Linked DNA regions of Homo sapiens. The protein of the gene in region 1 interacts with the protein of each later gene in a pairwise test. Each region holds a gene or a part of one and is shown on either strand. Other genes may lie near its edges.

The links. Proteins that work in one complex are often made in the same cells at the same time.
Region 2: the proteins of FAM161A (region 1) and ZNF526 interact in binary tests that used the Homo sapiens proteins (3 or more experiments, as listed by UniProt).
Region 3: the proteins of FAM161A (region 1) and CBY2 interact in binary tests that used the Homo sapiens proteins (3 or more experiments, as listed by UniProt).
Region 4: the proteins of FAM161A (region 1) and NINL interact in binary tests that used the Homo sapiens proteins (3 or more experiments, as listed by UniProt).

What each region holds. Positions count from the first base shown.
Region 1 is NC_000002.12:61,836,068-61,841,421, reverse strand, and holds part of FAM161A (protein FAM161A), read left to right. Parts: intron 1-840; coding exon 841-2,001; intron 2,002-2,716; coding exon 2,717-2,884; exon of another isoform or gene 2,885-3,477; intron 3,478-5,312; coding exon 5,313-5,354. UniProt on the Homo sapiens protein: Involved in ciliogenesis.
Region 2 is NC_000019.10:42,223,312-42,226,933, forward strand, and holds part of ZNF526 (zinc finger protein 526), read left to right. Parts: intron 1-903; 5' UTR 904-994; intron 995-1,075; 5' UTR 1,076-1,092; coding exon 1,093-3,105; 3' UTR 3,106-3,622. UniProt on the Homo sapiens protein: May be involved in transcriptional regulation.
Region 3 is NC_000013.11:45,705,320-45,709,746, reverse strand, and holds part of CBY2 (protein chibby homolog 2), read right to left. Parts: intron 1-4,427.
Region 4 is NC_000020.11:25,469,605-25,474,031, reverse strand, and holds part of NINL (ninein-like protein), read left to right. Parts: intron 1-3,936; coding exon 3,937-4,041; intron 4,042-4,427. UniProt on the Homo sapiens protein: Involved in the microtubule organization in interphase cells. Overexpression induces the fragmentation of the Golgi, and causes lysosomes to disperse toward the cell periphery; it also interferes with mitotic spindle assembly.

The sequences.
Region 1 (5,354 bases):
ATAAGTATTGGCCTTCTAGGCAGCAGAAACCATGTATGCAAAGGCAAGATGGCATGAGAAATCATATCGTGTGTGAGGAACTTCACAGGACTGGATATGAATGCAGAATGGAGACTGGGGTAGCCAGTGGTGAGGGGTAAGACTGAAAAGATAGGCGCCAGTCTCGAAGGGCTTGTAATCTAGGCTTGACTTCGTAGCAGTGAGGAATTATCAAAAAGTTTCAAGCAGGGGAATGACATGATCAGATCTATGCTTCAGGACAGTGACTCTGGAAAGTGGGGAGAATTTAATAGAGGTTAGACACAAGGACCCTCTGCCATCTCAGGTTCCTTCCCTGTAAAATGAAGGAGTCAAAGTGGATAATTTATGGGCATTGCCCAGCTCTATTCCAAATAAAAGTGATGATTCTTACAAGCCCTGTCCAGCTCCTCGCTTCTGATTATACCCTGATCTTAGAAAATATGTAACTCTTGGCTGGGCACAGTGGCTCATGCCTGTAATCTCAGCACTTTGGGAGGCGGAGGCAGGCAGATCACGAGGTCAGGAGATTGAGACCATCCTGGGTAACTTGGTAAAACCCTGTCTCTACTAAAAATGCAGAAAATTAGCTGAGCATGGTGGCACAAGCCTGTAGTCCCAGCTACTCGGGAGGCTGAGACAGGAGAATTGCTTGAACCTGGGAGGTGGAGGTTGCAGTGAGCCGATATCACACCACTGCACTCCAACCTGGGCAACAGAGTGAGACTCTGTCTCAGAAAAAAAAAGAAAATATGTAACTCTTAATTTTTATATTTGGTCACATACAACTGAAAGTATAACATAGTTATTCTTCTCATTTAGATCTGTATCAGAAAAGAACTCCTATCACCCTGTCTCATTAATGACATCATTTTCAGAGCCTGATTTAGGCCAGTCTTCCTCCTTGTATGTGTCCTCCTCTGAAGAGGAGTTACCCAACCTAGAAAAAGAGTATCCTAGGAAAAACAGAATGATGACCTATGCTAAGGAGCTCATCAACAATATGTGGACAGACTTTTGTGTTGAGGATTATATTCGCTGTAAAGATACTGGCTTCCATGCAGCTGAAAAAAGAAGGAAGAAACGAAAAGAATGGGTGCCCACAATTACAGTACCGGAGCCTTTTCAAATGATGATAAGAGAACAGAAGAAAAAAGAAGAGTCCATGAAATCTAAATCAGATATCGAAATGGTACATAAAGCGCTCAAAAAACAAGAAGAGGATCCAGAGTATAAGAAGAAATTCCGAGCCAATCCAGTTCCTGCATCTGTCTTTCTCCCCCTTTACCATGATTTAGTCAAGCAAAAAGAAGAACGGAGAAGGTCTCTGAAGGAGAAAAGCAAAGAAGCTCTTTTGGCCTCACAAAAGCCATTTAAATTTATAGCAAGGGAGGAACAGAAGCGAGCAGCCCGGGAAAAGCAGCTGAGAGACTTTCTTAAGTATAAAAAGAAAACAAATCGATTTAAAGCCAGACCCATTCCTCGATCTACTTATGGTTCAACTACCAATGACAAGTTAAAAGAAGAAGAGCTCTATCGAAACCTTAGGACACAGCTGAGAGCCCAGGAGCATTTACAGAACTCATCTCCTCTGCCTTGTAGGTCAGCTTGTGGATGCAGGAACCCCAGGTGTCCTGAACAGGCTGTAAAGTTGAAGTGTAAACACAAGGTTAGGTGCCCAACTCCTGATTTTGAGGACCTTCCTGAGAGATACCAGAAACACCTCTCAGAACACAAGTCTCCAAAACTCTTAACAGTGTGTAAACCATTTGATCTTCATGCATCTCCACATGCATCTATTAAAAGAGAAAAAATTTTGGCAGACATCGAAGCAGATGAAGAAAATTTAAAAGAAACACGTTGGCCTTATTTGTCTCCAAGGCGTAAGTCACCAGTAAGATGTGCAGGTGTAAACCCTGTGCCTTGTAACTGCAACCCTCCCGTGCCCACGGTATCTTCCAGAGGACGAGAACAAGCCGTAAGGTAAGTAAGTAGGACGCAGTACTGACTGACTCATGGTTGCCAGATGAGTGTATGCAGCTCTGTGGAGTTTATGTTGGTAAATTTGAAAATACTTAGAAATTATTATTGTATCTATAAGATATTTTACTATATAATATATGATATTTTGTCAGAGGGTATTCTAAGAAATGAATATATTTTTCATTTATAAATTTTGGGGGATTAGAAAATAATAGTCTTAAGATTTCTAGTTTTACCTGGCTGGGCACAGTGGCTTACACCTGTAATCCCAGTGCTTTGGGAGGTCGAGGCAGGTGGATCACAAGGTCAGGAGTTCAAGACCACCCTGGCCGAGATAATGAAACCCCCATCTCTACTAAAAATACAAAAAATTAGCTGGGCGTGGTGGCGGGTGCCTGTAATCCCAGCTACTCAGGAGGCTGAGGCAGGAGAATCGCTTGAATCCAGGAGGCAGAGGTTGCAGTGAGCCGAGATCACGCCATGGCACTCCAGCCTGGGCGACAGAGCGAGACTCCATCTCAAAAAAAATAAATAAATAAATAAATAAATAAATAAATAAATAAATATTTCTAGTTTTACAGGTCAGATCCTTTTCAAAAGGTTACCTTTTTTCAAATTTTGAATTATCAAAATTCAAATTATCCCATGTTAAATCTTTGCTAAACAACATTCTGATTGGCTTAAAGTGGATTAAGCCTTAGTTTGTTACCCTCAGGAGATCACTTGAGGAAAAGAAAATGTTGGAAGAAGAGAGAAATCGGATCCTAACTAAACAGAAGCAAAGAATGAAAGAATTGCAGAAACTCCTGACAACCCGGGCTAAGGCTTATGACTCACATCAAAGTTTAGCTCAAATATCTAAATCCAGAGTAAAATGTCTCAGGTATCATGAAAAAATCTTGAATCTCCAGACCACTGGTTTTCAAACTCTTTTTTTTTTAATCAGTAGATAGTAAAATATGAGCAGATTGAAAATAGCATTAGTGTTTTAGCTTATGGATTTAAATTGTCATCAGTTACTTGTGTTCAGTGCACACACACTCACCTCATGGTGAGAACCAACATATAAACTCACCTTTATGGTGAGAACCATGAAGCTATGTTGATGAATACAGACATTTTCTATTGTGGCCTTAGTTAATGGTTATAATCTTATACCAATATCTGATCTTGTTCTTTATATTATTTTTGATTGCAGTAAACAGATATATCAAAGAGCTTTGTTCTAAGGTTTGGATGAAATCTGATAGCACAAATTAACACGTTAAACATCGGTTATGTGATGTGTTCATTAGCACATATGTTAATGTTTAGTAGTATGTGTTGCATTTTGTTAGTTTCAATATAAAAATATTCACGGAATTCTTAGAACCCCTTCACTAGAATTTTGCAGTACAAAGTTTGAAAACCAGTGTTCCAGATGTTGCACATAAAAATGTTGATGTTTAAGTAGGAAACTATCTCCCTCAAAGCCAGGTAAGTAATGTGATTTATTACTTTTTAATCTGATTTCTAAATATGCATATGTGCTTTTAATTACAATGAGTATTCTTTTATAATTTAGCTTTAATCCATTGATAAAGGGAGCTTAATTTGATGAACGTGAGCATAATGTTTCTTAGAAATAGATTACTTACCCTTAGGAAGTAAACTATTAATAGCTTTTTATTTTTTATTTATTTATTTTTTTGAGACAGAGTCTCGCTCTGTCACCTAGGCTGGATCCCGAGTTCAAGCGATTCTCCTGCCTCAGCTTACAGAGTAGCTGGGATTACAGGTGCTCACCACCACGCCTAGCTAATTTTTGTATTTTTGGTAGAGATGAGGTTTTGCCATGTTGGCCAAGCTGGTCTCAAACTCCTGACCTCAGGTGATCTGCCTACCTTGGCCTCCCAAAGTGCTGGGATTACAGGCGTGAGCCACCGTGCCTGGACAATAGCTTTTTCATAACACCAACTTGTGTATAATTAAGCCTAATTATCATTTAAAAGTATAATTATTTTCCCCAATCCATTAATCTTATTTATCTTGGTAGCAATTATATCTTACATAGAGAAAATAGTGTAGTTTAATTTATTATAGGATCTTGCTCAAACAGTGAGAACACTTACGGTAAATTTATATATTTTGGTTCCTGTTTCTCTTTATGTTGTATTCCCATGCTCTTTACTTCTCCTTTGACTTGCTCCCATTGAATTAACTTTGCCACTAACCTGTAGGAGATCTTATTTAGGGGAAAAAAATAACAGCAAAGGCTGGATGCCATGGCTCACATCTGTAATCCCAACACCTCAGGAGTACAAGGCAGGAAGATTGCTTGAGCCCAGGAGTTTGAGACCAGCCTGGTAAACATAATGAGACCCCCATCTCTACAAAAAATTTAAAAAAATTAGCCAGGTGTGGTGGCATGCCCCTGTAGTTCCACCTACTCGAGAGCTAAGGTGGGAGGATCATTTGAGCCCAGGAAGTCAAAGCTGCAGTCAGCCATGATTGCACCACTGCACTCCAGCCTGGACAACAAAGTGAGAACCTGTCTCAAAATTAATAGGCCAGGCGCAATGGCTCATGCCTGTAATCCCAGCACTTTGAGAGGCCAAGACAGGCAGATCACCTGAGGTCAGGAGTTCAAGACCAGCCTGGCCAACATGGTGAAACCCTCATCTCTACTAAAAATACAGAAAATTAGCCAGGCATGGTGGTGCACACCTGTAATCTCAGCTATTCGGGAAGCTGAGGCACGAGAATTGCATGAACCCAGGAGGTAGAAGTTGCAGTGAGCTGAGATTGTGCCACCGCACCAGCCTGAGCAACAGAATGAGACTCCATCTCAAAACAAAAGTAAATAACAACAACAATAAAATAATAATAAAAAATAAGAGCAAAGTCTTGTTTTCAGGAGAAATTCCTTACAGAGAAGATAGCTAATTTGTTCCAAAATTTTCTTGGTTTTATACACTTATAAATGAGACAAGAGGACTTTCATTCATCTTTTCAGGGCAGTTTGAAGTCCCTTAAAATATTTATGCCTTGAGGATTTCAGAAATTAAAGTGTCCAGACTATTCCTAGAGCATAATATGTGTGATCTCAGAACCTAGGATTTTATTCTGCATTCCATGAGAATTAACCGGTATAGAAGAGGAATCGAGGTAAACTGTGAACTGTGCTTATAATTTCTGATTTGTCAGCTAAGCTAAATGTTATTTCTTTTTTTTCATTGACTTTGTACAAGTTGATAAGTTAAATGTTACATATGTAAGTTCTTATTTCTTAGATGATCTTTTAAAATTCCATTGCTTTTCTTTAATTTTAGAAAGAGCGAAAAGGAAAGGATGAGAGAATACCAACGAGAACT
Region 2 (3,622 bases), on another chromosome or scaffold:
TCTTGGCCAACATGGTGAAACCCCATCTCTACTAAAAATACAAAAATTGGCCGGGCGTGGTGGCTCATGCCTGTAATCCCAGCACTTTGGGACGCCCAGGCGGGCAGATCACGAGGTCAGGAGATTGAGATTGTCCTGGCTAACACGGTGAAACCCTGTCTCTACTAAAAATACAAAAAATTAGCCGGGCGTGGTTGCAGGCGCCTGTAGTCCCAGCTACTCGGGAGGCTGAGCCAGGAGAATGGCCTGAACCTGGGAGGCAGAGCTTGCAGTGAGCAGAGATTGCACCACTGCACTCCAGCCTGGGCGACAGAGCGAGCCTCCATCTCAACAATAACAACAAAAAAATACAAAAATTAGCTGGGCATGGTGGCGCACACTTGTAGTCCCAGCTACTCGGGAGGCTGAGACAGGAGAATCACTTGAACCTAGGAGGTGGAGGTTGTAGTGAGCCGAGATTGCGCCACTGTACTCTAGCCTGGCAACAGAGCAAGAGTCCATCTCAAAAAAAAAAAAAAAAAAAAAAAGAGGCCGGGCTGTTGGCCGGGGTGGTGGCTCACATCTGTAATCCCAGCACTTTGGGAGGCCAAGGCGGGTGGATCACCTGAGGTCAGGAGTTCAAGACCAGCCTGGCCAACATGGTGAAACCTTGTCTCTACTAAAATATATATATATATATATATATATATATACAAAAATTAGCCAGGCATGGTGGCACACCCCTGTAGTCCCGGCCACTCAGGAGGCTGAGGCACGAGAATAGCTTGAACCCAGGAGCGAGAGGTTGCAGTGAGCCAAGATTGTGCCACTGCACTCCAGCTTGGGTGACAGACCAAGTCTCTGTCTCAGAAGAAAAAAAAAAAAAAAAAAGAGGCTGGGCTGAGTGGTGTTTCTCTCCTGCAGGCTGCCGTGGGGTGTGTGTAGGCTTCAGAGACATGGGATCACGGAAGACTGAAGCAGAAACAGTGGATTAAGACTTCCTGAGCGATAGCTGGTGAGTAGTGGGATGTGCAAGAGAATTCCACCTCCCCTTGGTTTCCTGCTGTCTCACTGGCTCCTGCCCCTCTTTCTCCAGGCACTGCCTTCCCCACAATGGCAGAGGTGGTGGCTGAGGTGGCCGAGATGCCAACACAGATGTCACCAGGGGCAGTGGAGATGTCAACACCTATGTCGGCAGAGATGATGGAGATGTCAACAGAAGTGACTGAGATGACACCTGGGGAGGCCCTTGCCTCATCCCTCTTCTTCCAGCATCACCAGTTCATGTGCTCTGAGTGTGGCAGCCTCTATAACACACTGGAGGAAGTCCTCTCACACCAGGAGCAGCACATGCTTGCTGTCTCAGAGGAGGAGGCACTGACCACACAGAATGTTGGCCTGGAGCCGGAGCTGGTGCCGGGTGCTGAGGGGCCCTTCCAGTGTGGTGAATGCAGCCAGCTCATCCTCTCCCCTGGGGAGCTCCTGGCCCACCAGGATGCCCACCTCCGAGAGTCTGCAAACCAGATCCAATACCAGTGCTGGGACTGCCAGGAGCTGTTCCCCTCGCCCGAGCTGTGGGTGGCTCATCGAAAGGCCCAGCACCTTTCTGCTACGGTAGCTGAGCCACCAGTGCCACCTCCTTTGCCTCCCCCAACACCACTGCCTCCACCTTCTCCCCCATCCGAAGTCAAGATGGAGCCCTATGAGTGTCCTGAGTGCTCTACCCTCTGCGCCACCCCTGAGGAGTTCTTGGAGCATCAGGGCACCCACTTTGACTCCCTAGAGAAAGAGGAGCGCAATGGGTTGGAGGAGGAGGAAGAGGACGATGAGGAGGATGAAGAAGATGATGAAGAGATGGAGGATGAGGAGGCCATGGCAGAGGTCGGTGATGATGCTGTGGGAGGTGACGAGTCCACAGCTGGCTGGGCTCAGGGCTGCGGGGACTGTCCCCAGCACCAGCCCTCAGCAGGGGCTCGCCGGCAACACCGGCGGACGGCTCACAGCCCGGCATCTGCCACCCACCCCTTCCACTGCAGCCAGTGTCAGCGCAGTTTCAGCTCCGCCAACCGGCTGCAGGCTCATGGGCGGGCCCATGTTGGTGGCACACATGAGTGTACAACCTGCTCCAAGGTCTTCAAGAAAGCAGCATCGCTTGAGCAGCACTTGCGGCTGCATCGCGGGGAAGCCCGCTACCTCTGTGTAGACTGTGGCCGCGGCTTTGGCACAGAACTCACGTTGGTGGCTCACCGGCGGGCCCACACTGCCAACCCATTGCATCGCTGTCGTTGCGGCAAGACGTTCAGCAACATGACCAAGTTCCTCTACCACCGGCGCACTCACGCCGGCAAAAGCGGGGCACCTCCCACAGGAGCAACAGCTCCCCCAGCTCCAGCGGAGCCCACCCCTCCACCACCACCCCCTGCCCCACCTGCCCAGCTGCCCTGCCCACAGTGCTCCAAGTCCTTTGCCTCAGCTTCCCGGCTGTCCCGGCACCGGCGTGCAGTACACGGGCCCCCTGAACGGCGTCACCGCTGTGGGGTTTGTGGCAAGGGCTTCAAGAAGCTGATCCACGTGCGCAACCACCTGCGGACACACACGGGTGAGAGGCCCTTCCAGTGCCACTCATGTGGCAAGACCTTTGCTTCTTTGGCCAACCTCAGCCGCCACCAGCTGACCCATACGGGTGCACGTCCCTACCAATGCCTGGACTGTGGCAAGCGCTTCACACAGAGCTCCAACCTGCAGCAGCACCGGCGGTTGCACTTGCGGCCAGTCGCCTTTGCCCGCGCCCCCCGCCTCCCCATCACTGGTCTCTACAACAAGAGTCCCTACTACTGCGGGACTTGTGGCCGCTGGTTCCGCGCCATGGCGGGCTTGCGACTGCATCAGCGGGTCCATGCCCGAGCTCGGACTTTGACGCTACAGCCTCCCAGATCACCATCTCCTGCCCCACCCCCACCTCCAGAGCCTCAACAGACTATCATGTGCACAGAGCTGGGGGAGACCATCGCCATCATTGAGACATCCCAGCCACTGGCGCTTGAGGACACCCTGCAGCTGTGCCAGGCTGCACTGGGGGCCAGTGAAGCAGGCGGGCTCTTGCAGTTGGACACGGCCTTCGTGTGACGCAGCTGAAAAGCAACAACAAAAGGGTTTGGTTGCAACAGCCAGTGTGGGTACCTCTGGGGAGAGAGGACCTCCTCTGACAAACTGGTCTGGTACCCACCATGTGCCAGGATCCACCCTGGCCTCTTTTTACCCACTGACTCCCCAGAACAACCCTTCCAGGCTTCTCTTGTCATCTTTCTCTGCCTGAGGGGAAACTGAAGCTCTGAAATGCGATGTGATCTGTACCAGGTCACCCAGCTATGCTGCAAAGTGGGTTGGCCAAGGCCCTTTGCACTGCATCACCCTGGTGCCCAGCAACATCAGGTAACCTTCACTGAGCACCAAGCTTATGCCAGGTCTGTGCTGGCCACTCTCATATACCTCTTCAGATCCTCTGCTTGTACCCCCAGCCCTTGCCTTCCCTGGATTTTGGGCACCCAGGACTTTGCTCTGCCTGGTGGAGGGTACTTGATTTCTCTGGGCTTCCTTCATCTCAATTCTGACAGTGTGGAAGGAAATCTGTAGGTACCCAGGT
Region 3 (4,427 bases), on another chromosome or scaffold:
GTCCATGTACCCATCACTCAGCTTCACCAAGTATCAAATCAAGGCCACACTTGTTTCACCAGGCCTCAACCTGATTCCACAACCACTCCCCTACCGCTAGGTTATCTTAAAGCAAAGTGACATTGTGTCATCTTATCCACAAATATATAAATATGTGCCTCTTTAACAGAATCACAATACCATTATCACCCTTTAACATTTAACAATTATCCCTCAATATCTGCGAATACTGAGCCCATGTTCAAATTTCCCCAATTCTCATTTCTTTTTAACGATCGTTTTGTTTCAGCCAGAGAGACAATCTTCTTGATCCAACTAAGGGTCCAAAGAGGAATCATGGATGCTTTCTACCTGTCCATATTTGGCCATGATGGCTTTTAACCCATGGCATTCAGCTGCCTGTGTTCTACATCCACCTTCCACACTGGGTACCCAAGGAACATTCTGTCATCCCCTCAACAGAAATACACTAAACAAAACCTTAACATATGGTGGATCCCTAGCCACGGACAACCTGGGTGTTTGTGCCCTGGTCTTTATTCACACATTCAGGTGATCTTGCTCATATCCACTCACTTTCTGACCTTAGTTTCCACTTCTGTAAAATGAAGGGTAAGAGTCATTATCTCTAAGTGCTCTCTTGGCCTAACTGTCTCTGGTCCAGTGGATTTGCATTTGTAAATTGGCACCACTATGGCCCCAGCAGCCCTCTTTTACCAACCTAGTTGGCATCTCGTCCTCTCCCCTAAATGGCCAACTCTTCCCAAGCAGGCTTTGTGCCTTCTCTTGTTCCATGCCCACAGCACCTAATCCAGGAAATGCTGATGGACAAATAAGTCCCCTTTACTTTCTCAACAGGAAACCAAATTCTTCTCCAATGACTGAGTCCTATTATCTTTCCTCCTATCCTCAGACAGGACCAAGAAAGTGGTCAAGTGCAGTGTTTCCTCATGGCTTAATTTCTTAGAACATTTAAAAATTTTTCAGTAGTCATATACTTATTTTAATGAGTAATGGGAAAACATACCTATATTAAATATACAGGCATTTTTAGACATGACAAGGATCATGATTGAACTTCAGGAAAACATTGATCCAGAACAAACTTGTTTTTTCCTGTAGCATTTCTCTGATTCTGATCAGAGCTAGCTGGATTTAATCCTTAAAGGAAAGCTCTTGGCCTTGTGAAAATTCTTCACCCTAGTCATGTACCCACTCAGGATGTTATTGCACCAATTTTTCCCCTACATTAGTGTCAGTGAATCAACTAACATTAATTTGGCACGTACTGTGTTCCAAGCTCACAGACCCTGCCCTCAGGGAATTTCCAGTTGATTTGAAGAATCAGTGAATAGCACCAATTACTTCTTGATGCAAATGAGAGAAGTCAAAATGCAGGAAGCATTAACGCAGGCAGCAAGGTGTGGGGAATAGGGGACTAGAAATGATAACATCTCCAGAGAATTCTGGCTCTGCACTATATGAGTGCATGACCTTTACAAAGTCACTTCATTTCTGTGCCTTAGTTCCTAGAAAATGTGGATGTTGACATGAATGAATCAGGGCCAACCCATATATTTTTGAAATGCCCAACTCTAAAAGGCGCTATTCACTGTTACTGCAGGGCACAACCTGTACAACCCTCTATAACGACCTCACCAACATCTGCCCTACTTCTCTCAGAGGGTTTGTTGTTCAGAAATAAAAGGAGACTCGGAACATTTTCTTTGTTTATAAAGAGCTGCAGACATACAAGAAGGGCTTTTAGAAGAGACATTGCTTAGCATTTCTTTAGAGAAAGATTATATAGAACAAGAAAAAAAATAACACTGAGTGACTATAATGTGTCAGGTTATATGCTAATTGATTTCTGTATTCATATGTAATATCTTACCCAAAGAACTGGCATGATTCTGCATAAGATTACATAGCTGATAAAGGAGTGGAACCAGGGTTTAAAATGAGGATATTTGACTCCAAACTCCATGTTTATTCTAGCACTTCACAATGCTCAGACATTTTATTTTGCATGTGCTAATATCATTACTTTGCAATGGTTCTCTTACAACCAGGCCTGTCCTCTCCCCATATGAGTAAGTTGCAATTATCTAAGCACAGTGACCTATCCCTTGTTTTTGTGACATCCCAAGTCTTGGGAATTAGAAAGCAAATTTCACATGTGGTGGAGGCTTAATGAGTCCTTGGCAATAACTGAATCAACCAAAATACACTGAAAGATTGGGAGGAAATACTAGGTTGAACCATAAGAAACTGTTAACATTTTACCATTTTTGGCCTACAAAAATGGCCATTTCTTTTGCCTTAATATAGTTAGTGTATTTGATAAGCTATATCCTCATTTCCATTCATATTTTAAGACTTTAAAATAGTCCCAGGGCAAAGCTGTTATGGTATGATGTAAAATCTATAAGCATGGAGTTTTCCTCACGTGAATTCCACAAACCCCTAGGTTCATCCATGTACTCCCTTAGAGGAAGCTCCCACCACCCCCTGCACACAAGCACGCTAGTGGTCCCTTTCATCATCTTGAATATATAATCCAACGAGGGTAAACGCCCTAAATTTCCAGTAACTTTGGGCTCAAAAGTCCTTCCTTTGACTGCTCTTGAGAAAGTCATTTTGCCTCTCAGAATGTCACCTCTAAAATAAGCCTAAACATGGCTGCTCTGCCTACTTCCTGGGGTTGCCAGAGGACAAGAAAGTGGTAGCCAAGCTGTCATAAAGACTAAACAGATGGTCAGTTCTACTGGTAAGGTTTAAACATACCCAGCCTAAAGCGCTATGCAACGTGGAGTATATTTCTTTACAAAAGGGCTACCCAAAAACTAAGCATCTGAGCTCAGCGAACATATGCAGTTCCAGGATTCCAGACCTCCTTGGCCTATGTTAGAAGCCAGTTCCTTCTCAGTAGGACTCCTCGACCAGTGGTATCACTGGATTGGTTTCATGGGCCAAGCTAACCTGCCCTGATATCCTTTAGCCCTTGACAAGAGGTCTATGCCAATACAAAGCCCCAAGAACACCCCAGTAATGTTCTCCTAAGCCTGGGAGGTACAGCCTGTGTAGCATGGTGCAACTGACCATGAAAATAAAAGATTGTCTCTTTTCTGGTCTCTAGGAAATGCCCTCACATAGAGATCCAGTAGGTAGGAAAGAAAAAGGTTGGCTTCTTCATGGAGGAATGAGATATGAAGCTGATGCAGAAGGGGAATAAGTTGGTCATGGGCTCATCATGCCTTCCTGTCGGGTGCTAGAAAGGTGCCAAGAGACTCTGTCCTCAGGGGAAATGTGCTCATAGCTGTAACCCAATGATGCATTAGTGACAGGGATCCAGGAAGGGCCATGGGCACGAACATCGCCCTCACAGAAGCCTGAAGTCCCATCTGTGGATTGGAATTCTTCCTTAGCATTAGGTCTGGTGCCCTCCTTGGTAAATATAAGTGGTCCTGGAAGGAAAATGCCTGAAATCTGCCAACAACTGTGTCTTTGTCAGATCACCAACCTGGTGGCAAGTGAAGAACATGGGGGAAGGGGACAATTGAAAGAAGGGAGGCAAAATGCAAAGGCCAAAGGGCAAAAGGAAAAGGGGAAGTGAAAGGACCAAAATCTCTTACTAGTGCTACAGGACTTGTAGCAACAGGTCTCTCTGGGTGGGACCTTCTGGGATAGAATTACTGGGGGTGTGGTTTCCCATCCAAAGAGTTTGGGGATGGGATTGAACAGCAACTAGCCAGGCTTAGCTGACACACACTGATGTCTCTCCACCCCTGGAAAAATGTGGCTACCACAGCCCAGAAGAGATGTCCAAACACTGCTGATAGAGTCCAAGCCTGCTGACCAAGTTTCTTAAACACCAACTTTGCCAACATTACTGAGGGTTACTATCAGAGAACATTCAGCCATCTGAGGTACTATTAAAGCATGTGAAGTTGAGAGGACCCAGGATTCTGGAAGGAAAAGCCAAATATGATACTGATTTTCATATGAGATGACAAGGCTGAGTCTCATTATCATTATTTTAAATTAATTCAGCTCCCTGGTACCATGGCAAAGTCAATGGTGGTTTTAATAAATACTAACAGGTAAAAGGATAATTCACAAGGTAAATGTGATTGATGTTGACAGAATTACAACGTTAACAGCAAAGAGGATAAAGAAGATGTCATATGTAGTATGTTTGCATACTGTTTAACAGAGACTCTCCTGAAATCTTCCTGGGAATTCAAATTGGCGGGTGCTGTCAGCAGGAATTCACTGCTTCTGAGTAACAAGCACAAACAAAGGGGAAGGAGAAAAGGCAACTGGGAAGGATGAAGGAGGCACCGGAGGGTGCTATTGGAGCTCAGTCTGACCTGGTGTAGCTCTTTCATTAATGATCTAGGAGTAAACAATGCCTTAATGAAATT
Region 4 (4,427 bases), on another chromosome or scaffold:
TAATGTCACATAGTCTCTGTTAGAGGCCAGTATTGTGCCATCCACAGTAGGTATCTGACTTTTGTGCTCTGGTTACTTCTGAGACCTGTATCTTTAGTGGTTTTTATTTGCTGTGTGCATTTCTTTCTTTTTAACTTTTTATTTATTTATTTATTTATTTTTTTGAGACGGAGTCTCACTCTGTTGCCCAGACTGGAGTGCAGTGGTACAACCTCAGCTCACTGCAACCTTTGCCTCCCAAGTTCAAGCAATTGTCCTGCATCAGCCTCCCAAGTAGCTGGGATTACATGTGCCCACCACCATGCCCAGCTGATGTGTGTGTGTGTGTGTGTGTGTGTGTGTGTGTGTGTGTGTGTATGTGTGTATTTTTACTACAGACGGGGTTTCACCATGTTGGCCAGGCTGGTCTTGAACTCCTGGCCTCAAGTGATTTGCCTGCCTCATCCTCACAAAGTGCTGGGATTACATAAGGCCTGAGCCACCAGGCCTGGCCACTTTGTTTTATTTTATTTTATTTTATTTTATTTTATTTTATTTATTTTATTATTTTATTTTATATTTTATTTTATTTTATTCATTGTAGAGATAGTCTCTCACTATTTTGCCCAGGCTGGTCTCAAACTCCTGGCCTCAAGCGATCCTTCTGCCTCAGCCTCCCAAAGTGGATCCTCCTTGAAATTACAGGTGTGAGCCACCATGCCCAGCCTCTTTTTAACTTTTTATTAAAGTGTGATACACATAAGAAAATGTATATATTTGTACAATTAGGAGAATTGTCAACAAATTGAACACGTCTGTGTTACCAGCGCCCAGAACAAGAGATGGAATTCACCAGAGTCCCCGGGGTAACCACTTCTTACAGCATAGATTCAGTTTGCTTGTTTTTGTACTTTATGGAGAGGAATCATGCAGTGTGTACTCTTCTGTGTCTGACTTTCTTGGCTCAACCTGGTTGTGCGATTGATCTGTGTTGTTGCTGTAGTTCATACATTTGCATTGCTGTGTGGTATTCTGTTGTGTGAACATACCACAGTTTATTCTTTTCTCCTGTTGATGGGCATTTGGGTAGTTCCTAGTTTTTGGCTCTCACAAATGGAACTGCACTGAACGTTCTTGCATTTGTCTTTTGGAGCATTATGTTGGGCTGTACCTAGAAATGGGATTGTTATGTTGTGGGTATAGGCATAGTTTTCTTTTTGTTCATCCTACTTAGAAAACATTGTCCCAGCCAGGCACAGTGGCTCACACCTATAATCCCAGGACTCTGGGAGCCCAGGAGTTCAAGATCAGTCTGGGCAACATAAGGAGACTGTTTTCTACAAAAACTTAAGAAAAATTAGTCACACATGGTGGCACGCACCTTTGGTCCCAGCTATTTGGGAGGCTAGATGGGAGGATCACTTGAGCCTGGGAGGTTGAGGCTGCAGTGAGCTGAGATTGCACCACTGCACTCCAGCCTGGGCGGCAGAGCAAAAGGGAAAAAAAAAAAAAAAAGAAATATTTTCCCTGTTGAATGTATGGATTGCATTGGTGTCTCATGAAAATCTCTCAGCCATTACTATTAAAATATTGCCTCTCCGGAGGTTGCAGTGAGCCAAGATCGCGCCATTGCACTCCAGCCAGGGCAACAAGAGCAAAACTCCGTCTCAAAAACAAAAAAAAAGTATATATATATATATATATATATATATATATATATATATATATCCTCTCCTCCCACTATTTTCTTCAATTAGATATGTGACTGTTAGAGCATTTCACTTTATGTCTCAACCTCTCTTTTATATTTTCCATCTTCTGTCTGTATCACATTTGGGGTATTTTTTACATACCTATGTGTTCCAGGTCAGTATCTCTTTCTTTCAGCTCTGTGTAATCTGCTATTTAAACCATCCCATGAGTTTTTATTTTGACATTGACTTTTTGTTCATTTCTAAAAATTCTGTTTGGTCCTGTCTGATCATTGTCAATAGTTTCTTGTTGCTTGTTCATTGTTTGTTGCTGTCTTTTATTTATGTAAACATTTCATAACACTTATTTTTAGTTTGTGTCTAATAAGTCCAATACCTGCAGTTTCTAGAGGATTGAATTCTGGCTTCTGGCTTCTGCTGTCATTTATGGGTGGCTTTGCTCCATGTATGTTATGGTGATCTTTGATTGTGAGCTCATATTTGCTTGATGTTAATCTCTGGGAATATAAAGAGCCTTATATGGGATGCTATTGCTTTTGCAGAGAAGTGAGAAGGTGCTAATCTGGGACTGTCTGAACCTCCTTCCAGGGCCCTGTCTGGTGCAGGTGTCCACAGTGCAGCTTCTCCATTCTGCTAATAGCAGTGCTGACACATAGGCATTGGTTGCAAGGTCCCCCCAGCTTTGTGTTGCATAGTGCTCACGCGTTGGTTTCAGCTTCCAGGATTTTGTTTTGTTTGGAGATTCTTGCAGGTTTTCTTTTCTTTCCATGAGGACAGTCACAGAGGTTGCGATCAGCTTTGCGCAGGATCTAGTTGTTTGGTGGTCATGTGGGGGATGGGGTAGGGCACCCCTCAGCTTTCGGCCTTGCATCAACTTGTTCTCCATTCTAGAGCCAGAGTGATAGTTTAAAAACACAGAACTCTCCTGCTTGAAACCCTTTGCTGCCTTTAATTCCAGTGACTATTTATTTTTGTCTTTAGTTCCTCATGAGATAAAATGAAGGCATATGAAGAAGATACTTATGTTTACTATTATAAGTATAATACATAAAGCGGGCTGGGCGTGGTGGCTCACATCTGTGATCCCAGCACTTTGGGAGGCCTAGGTGAGAGGATCACCAGGAATTCGAGACCAGCCTGGGCAACCTATCGAGACCCCATCTCCACCACAACAAAAATTATCCAGGCGTGGTGGCGCATGCCTACTGTAGTCCCAGCTCCTGGGCCTGGGAGTTCAAGGCTGCAGTGAGCCATGATCGTGCCACAGTACTCCAGCCTGGGTGACAGAATGAGACCCCATCTCAAAGAAAAAACAAAAAAATACATGAAGTGAACATGGTGAGATCATGTGGCTTTCAGTATTTTCAGACTGAAAAAATAAGAAGCTAGTACCATATGGAGACCTATTTGGGGAATACACGTTAGCCTTACCAGTCAGTATTAAGAATGCATTCTCTGGGTAGCAAGTATGGGTCTTAAGCTACTTCACTGGTGATCTTTTTTGTTTTTTCACAGACAAGGTCTCACTATGTTGCCCAGGAGGGTCTCAAACTCCTGGGCTCAAGCAGTCTTCCTGCCTCAGCCTCCCCAGTAGCTGGGATTACAGATGCATGCCGCCACTCCTGGCTCCCATTAGTGATCTTCATTGGTAAATTGCCATCTTCATCTATCAAATCAATGGCATTACCCAAGCAGGGACTCCCTGAGTTGTCAGAGAACAAAGACGGCCCAGGCAGACTTGGTTCACATAGTGGCTGTCTATCCCTGCCTTTTCCCACTTTGAGATTCACCTAGCAGAGGTTTCCCATATATCTTGGCCTTCTGATTCCTGTGTTTCTTAGCTCCACACTGAGTTCACTGCCAGGGCATGAGTACCCTGCAGTACCTGAGGACTCACGCCCAGCACTGGCAACCAGGACACACGTTTGGTGAGAGGCCATAGATGCAGGAGCAGTTCAGCTATAAACTCAGCATAAGCAAAACCCAAGGTTCTGAGTGCATTTGTGACTTGATGGCGTGGCAGTGTAGAAGCTAAGAAAGTTCCGTTTTCTGTGGCTTGGCTCATGGGAGATGTAAGACGTTAACACCTGGTGCAGGAAGAGGGAAAGGAATGGTGTCTGGCGCCACCTCCAGGGACGGGGAGATGGGGACGCACAGTTCTCAGGACTCCCCGCTGCAGAGCCAGCCTCCGTGACCACATGTGGCTCCCCAAGTGCTCACCGGTCTTTTCTCAATTTTTACGCAGACTGGAGTTCCATAGACTTTCTGAAGAAAACACTTTGTTGAAAAACGATCTGGGAAGGGTTCGGCAAGAGCTTGAAGCTGCAGAAAGTACTCACGATGCACAGAGGTAAGGGCCACGCCCCTACCCAGACCTTCTGGGGGTGCGTTTTGCCCTCCGTAGAGTGACCTTATGCAGTCTCCATATAGACAGTGGGAAGTGTTCTCAGATTAGCCCTGCATTCCAGAAAACCCTAAACCATGAGCCTTGTTAACTTCTGAACGACTCGGCAGATGTGGGAGGCTCTGGCCTCCTTCCTCGTGTGGGCGGCACCTGAACGCCCCAGCTCCTTGGTGTGGGAAGTGAGGCAGAGTGCCCACAGCATGGTCGGGACTGCGAGCAGAGCCCTAGCACAGGCGCCGTTCACCCCACAGAGATGATGCACGTCGCACTTAGGGGTTGGGGGAGGCCACAACAGTGTCTGTAGGGGTCAGAGGTGCTCCTAGGATCCTCTC